Linked DNA regions of Homo sapiens: region 1 is linked to region 2. Evidence: fine-mapped expression QTL. Tissue or cell type: hypothalamus. Region 2 holds a variant in brackets; the other region holds the start of a gene. All regions are shown on one strand. Distances are from middle to middle.

Evidence for each region. PIP is the estimated chance that this variant, and not a neighbour inherited with it, causes the effect.
Region 1: it holds the start of TTC39B, and the variant in region 2 is fine-mapped to the expression of TTC39B in hypothalamus (GTEx, PIP 0.97).

Annotation. Positions count from the first base shown.
Region 1 is chr9:15,305,802-15,308,416 of GRCh38, reverse strand. TTC39B (tetratricopeptide repeat domain 39B) reads left to right here and starts at 1,201. Exons shown (of 20, transcript NM_152574.3): 1 at 1,201-1,333. The coding sequence starts at 1,292. RefSeq lists silencers at 947-1,286, 1,317-1,636 and enhancers at 874-1,436, 2,000-2,563.
Region 2 is chr9:15,369,322-15,372,078 of GRCh38, reverse strand. No RefSeq gene overlaps it. Among named protein-coding and RNA genes, the nearest start is that of SNAPC3, 52 kb to the left of the region's middle. The variant C/T (reference allele first, on the strand shown) is at 1,502.

The sequences.
Region 1 (2,615 bases), 64 kb after region 2:
AGAGGTTCAGTAGAGTCCTGGCACATAGTAAGGACTCAAGAACTATTAGCTGTTTTTACAGTTATCACTGGATGACTATTAAATAGCCTTTCATGAGCCAGACATGGAAGACCACATGCTCTAATTAAATTTATATGAAATTCTAGAGAAGGCAAATCGATGTTGATAGCAGATCAGTGATTGACAGAGGCTAGGGAGCGGAGGTAGGAAATTGACAGCAAAGGGTCACAGAAAACTTTTCAGGATGTTCTATATTATGACTGGGATGCTTTGTAAACACTTGTCACTGAATCACACATTTAACTTGGTGCATTTTTCTGTATGTAAAGTAAATCTGACCTCTCTCCCCCAAACTCTTAAAGATCTAGCTTTTAATTTTCCAGTTATTTTACATGTCAGAAGCAAGGTTCAGTTTCTAAACTCAGCCAACAAATATCTGTTGAGCACCTACGATGTGCAAGACACTGTTCTGGGTGTTGGGGATACAGTCTTGAAGAGGACAGATAGCATCCTACCCCCATGGAGTTTATAGTTCAAGCACGAATTATACACCTATGTTTGGAGTTACAAAATACAGGATGCTATGGGGAGAATACACTGTCCGGGTAGGGGGAAGTAGAGGAGTTCCAATATGTATAAATCTCTGTCCCGCGTTTTTTTCTATTTTTTGAACACAGAAGCAAGCAGAGTCCTTCCACCTACAGTCCAGGTGGGTGGTGTGTCAGAGGCCTCTCGGGGACCAGTGACCGTGACCCAAGGCTGCCCTCAGGCCACACCATCTGCGAGATGCGGTGGCCACCTGGCGAGGGAAAAGGACTGGCACCGGACCAAAGACCAGGTGGATGCTTCCACGGACCCCAGGTGGGGCGCTGCTTTGACCTTGGCTTCGTCATGCCCGCGCTCTCTAGCTTCTTTCCAGGTGTGCCCAGCCACCGCAGAGAACAGGCGGCAGGAAAGCTTAGGAAACCCTCCCAGAGGGCGTGCCAGACCGGGAAACTTTATCTGGGAGGTGACTCCACCCACTTGGGCGGGGCTGCCGCCCGCTGGGGGCCGGGCAAGTGGCCCGGCCAGCGGCGCGGCGTCCGGGGAGGAAATGGATGCTGTGCTGGCCTGCCGGCTCCGGGGGCGGGGAAATCGAGTAGCTGCACTCAGGCCCCGCCCGAGACCCGGAGGGAGCGCCGGGCCGTCCCCTTTTGCCCTCCTTTGCGCTGGGCTGAGCCCAGAGCCGAGAGCAGGAGTCGGCTCTGAGTTCCCTGCTTGGTTTTTGGGTGGCAGCAGCCAGAGGAGGAATATGGCGCTCTTAGGCAGCCGAGCGGAGCTGGAAGCGGACGAGGTACGATCCGATGGGGATTGCGGGCCCGGCCCCTGAAGCCCTGGACAGGAGTCCGGGAGAGAAGAGTGAGCCCGGCTAGGACGGCCGAGGCCCCGCCCCCTTGGTCCCCTCTCTGGGGTGGGCTGGCGGGCGCCGGGTGGGGGCGCCCGGCCTTGGTAGGTCTGTCCCCGCTGGAGCTAGGAGGGTCCCTGCGGCGCGCGGAGCGGACGCAGTGCCGAGGTTCGGAGCGCCGGCCCCGCGAGTCGTGGGGATGGAGGACCCACGTCCTGCCAGCACTTGGATGGGCGTGAGGGCGCGGGACCATAGGACCCGCAGCTCTGAGCTGTTCCGGGCCGGCCCAGCGACGCCTGGGCTTTACGAAGTCTGACCCTGAAGTCCTGGCACTGGCTCTCTGGGTGTTCGTGGAATCATCCCTCGACCTGGGAATCTCACCTTCTATGGAAGTTTCCTGGTGGCAGAACCGAAAGGCTTACGATTGATGAAAAGAGGGGGCAGCCTGAGGAACAATGAGTAGAGGGGTACCTGCCGCGACAGCAGGGCAGGGCTGCCAGGGGCTGGGGCTGGAGGGCTAGAGCCGCAGCCCAGGCTGTGGTGCTTCCCTCTCCCTCCACGGGGCCGGGACACTTCCCCTAGCAGGTCCTCAGAGTCGGTGGTGGCCGGAGGGAAACCACTTTGAGAACCGACTCCGGCCTCCTTTGGTTTCAACTGTGTTTGAGTAATTAGCCACTCCTTCAGTCGTGGCGCGCCCGGGCCTGAGCACCCAGGGGCTAGCGCGCCGGACCTGTTGATTTATTGACTATTCATTTCAGCACCTGGCAACTCCAGAGACAGCGCTCTCCCTGCTCTTGAAGTTGAGACCGAGGCTCCAGCAGCAGCCAGCACCCACAGCTGCTGTTCCTGCCATCTTACCTGACTTGAATTGTGCGAGTCGCTGCCTTTAGAAGGCTTTGGTTTCAAATGATGCAATAGTGGACGATCTGGAGGAGGCGGTTAAGTTTCCCGTCCATCTCTTTAGTGCCAGGAATCTCCTGACAAGGAAGACTATACTTTAAATGTGCTCCGTAAAATAAACAAAAAACAAAAACTGAACTACAGCTCCTCTGCATGACAGAGAGACAAGAGGGCAAGCCGGGCTGTCCAGACCCTTGCTTACAGCCTGTCCCTTGCATTGAGGATCCCAAGACTGTAGAATGAAATATTTGAATCCCGATCTGTTTGTAGGAGATTTGCTGTGCTTAGAACTATGTAATTCTCTAGATTAGGGCATTGTTGAGGCGGTGCT
Region 2 (2,757 bases):
TAGAGACCGTCCTGGCCAAGAAGGTGAAACCCCGTCTGTACTAAAAATACAAAAATTAGCTGGGTGTGGTGGTGCGTGCCTGTAGTCCCAGCTACTCAGGAGGCTGAGGTAGGAGAATGGCATGAACTCCGGAGGAGGCAGAGCTTGCAGTGAGCTGAGATCGTGCCACTGCACTCCAGCCTGGGCGACAGAGTGAGACTCTGTCTCAAAAAAAACAATCCTAAACAATAACTTCCTCGGAGGAAAAAATCGGCTCAGAACAAATTAAGGACCGTCGACCAAAGGGAGGTCCAGGGCTCAGGAGGACTTGTCAGCTCCACTGGTTGGAGAAGCTCGAAGTCAGGGAGGCTTCAATGGTTCCCTGCTAGTACCTTAGCTCCGAGTTTGGCTAACTCCTTCAGGGTCCTGAGTCTTCTCTGAGGCACCAAATTACTGTCAACAAAAAGAGTCAACAATAATTACTTAAGGGATTTATTCTGAGCCAAATATGAGTGACCATGGCCTGTGACACAGCCCTCATGAGATCCTGAGAACATGTACCCTGGCCAAGGAGGAAGTCCATTCAGATGGTTTTGGGGGGCATTAGAATTGTATTTTTGATTTACAGTGTCACCAGTAGGGTGAAATATGTGTGGCTGTGTTTTGGAGGGTGCTAAATTTTAGGTTGAGAAGAGGAGAAGCAAAGGAAAAACAGGAGAGAGAAAGAAAAAGGAAGTGTGGGAGTAGGGAACGAGGAAGAGGACAAGAGGAAGGGAGAAACCAGGAGAACGAGTGCCAGGAAGAGGAATTGGCAGGACTCCTTTCCCAGACACCGCAGCAACCACCTCCGGTGATAGGGTCGGGGTAGGGGAAGGATCCTGGGGCAAAGTCCACCAGCAGGACGAACTGATCACTGGGCAAGCAGTCACTGTAAAACAAGCCTAAGAAGAAATGCAGGCCAACAGACGAGAATGAAGGCAGAAGATGGAGGTGGGCTCCAGAGAGAGAGAGAGAGAGAGACAGATCCCGAACAAGCAGCTGCCTACAATGTAAGAAGGTTTCTGAGGCAGTGTGGGGCCATGCACTGAGGGGCACAGCGGGAAACAGTCCTGAAAACCTGGCAGGCTTGCTGCCGAAAGCTCCCGCTCTTTGTTGTTACTTTGGAGAGAATACTCCCACTTGGTACCCTGCTAATCAACAAGCTTACTAAGTTCTGAGTCATCAATTTTCTATTCTTTTTTGGGAAATGATGCTGAAGAGAAATACTGTAACCATTGGACTAATTCTGCTCACCTCTATCAAGGCCATACTGGTGATCCCTGTGACCCCAGCCCTTGTGTACGATCTGTCCTGGAAAGTATTATTTAATTTCTGATGCAAATGTGGCAATGCCCTTCCATCAGCAGAGGCAGGCAAAGCTCCCGAGAGTGAGGAGGAGGGATGGTGTTACCATGGTAACGAGATGACCAGCTGAGTGTAGATGGAGCTAAGCATCTTTCTACTGAAGAACAGGAGTAGCTAT[C/T]CTTAGCCTCTACTTGTACCTGAGGAGTCACAGCCGATTTACATAAACCCCTCACTTTTCATTAAAAGCAAACATACAAAAGGATTGAGGAAGGCAAATTTTCTCTCTCTTCTTGAGCTGTGACTTCTATCTCTTAAAAAAATAAAAGCAAATTTAAAATAATAAGAGCTAACGTCTCCTACTGGGGAGGAAATTAAGAACAAATGTCTGGGAAGCGGGTGCTCTTTAACACCATTTAGGTTTTTTGATTTGTTGTTTCTAATTAAGATATTGGTTTCTGCTGAGGGCATGCGTAAGGTAGGTTAGATTTTAAAATACTTGCCAGCCTTTGAAGGATGAGACATATTAGCTAGTAAGCCAGTTTATTAGTGATGTAACATGAAACAGCTTACTTACCCTTTTTAAGCTACATTACAATAAATGTACTTCCTCCTAAGGTCAACACTTAAAAGTCAAAACACTCATACTGGATGTTTGTTTACAAACAAATTTCTGATGGCAGTGCTGAGGACCAGAATATGCTGCTCCAAAATAATGGTTTTTTGGCATAAGGATTATTTTGAGCTGATTATTTTGAGAAACTGCAGACACAGGAGAAATTCTGAAAACAGAGTACTAGAAGTTATCGTTTTGTAAGAGAAATTTATATCTATAAAGGGAATCTCCATTTGTAAGAGTGCCTCCTTCTCTGTACCAGGAAGAGATGGATGACAAAGTCACTAAGATGTGTATAAATGGAGAAGGCACTGGCTGAAATCTGCATAACAAACCTTACCCTTGTTTTTCCTGAGCATCTCCACATAACCAGCCTTCCCAATATCATTCTTTCTCGTTTCAGCACACGATGGTATTTAAGACTAAATTTAAAGCCATCTCTTTGAGATTTACCAATTTCAACAGATATCTCCTATGTACACATGTTAATAAACCTGTTTGTTAATCTGTCTTTGGCTACAGATGTCTGTCACTCTGTCCCAACCAAGAACTACAAAGGATAGAGAGAAAATTATTTTCCCTTTTGTACAGCAAGATTGACTTTTTTTAAATATCCCAATGCTATAGCAAATTGAATGTATACTCTAAGAGTTTTGGCTACAAGAATGTTTATAAGTAATCACTCACATGAACACTCATACATTGGAGGTGAGAATGAAAAGGGGACAGCTGCTTTGGAAAACAATTTGGCAGTTAAACACACTTACCATATGTGATGGTTAATTTGATCTAATTTAATTTTTATTTTTTTGAGACAGGGT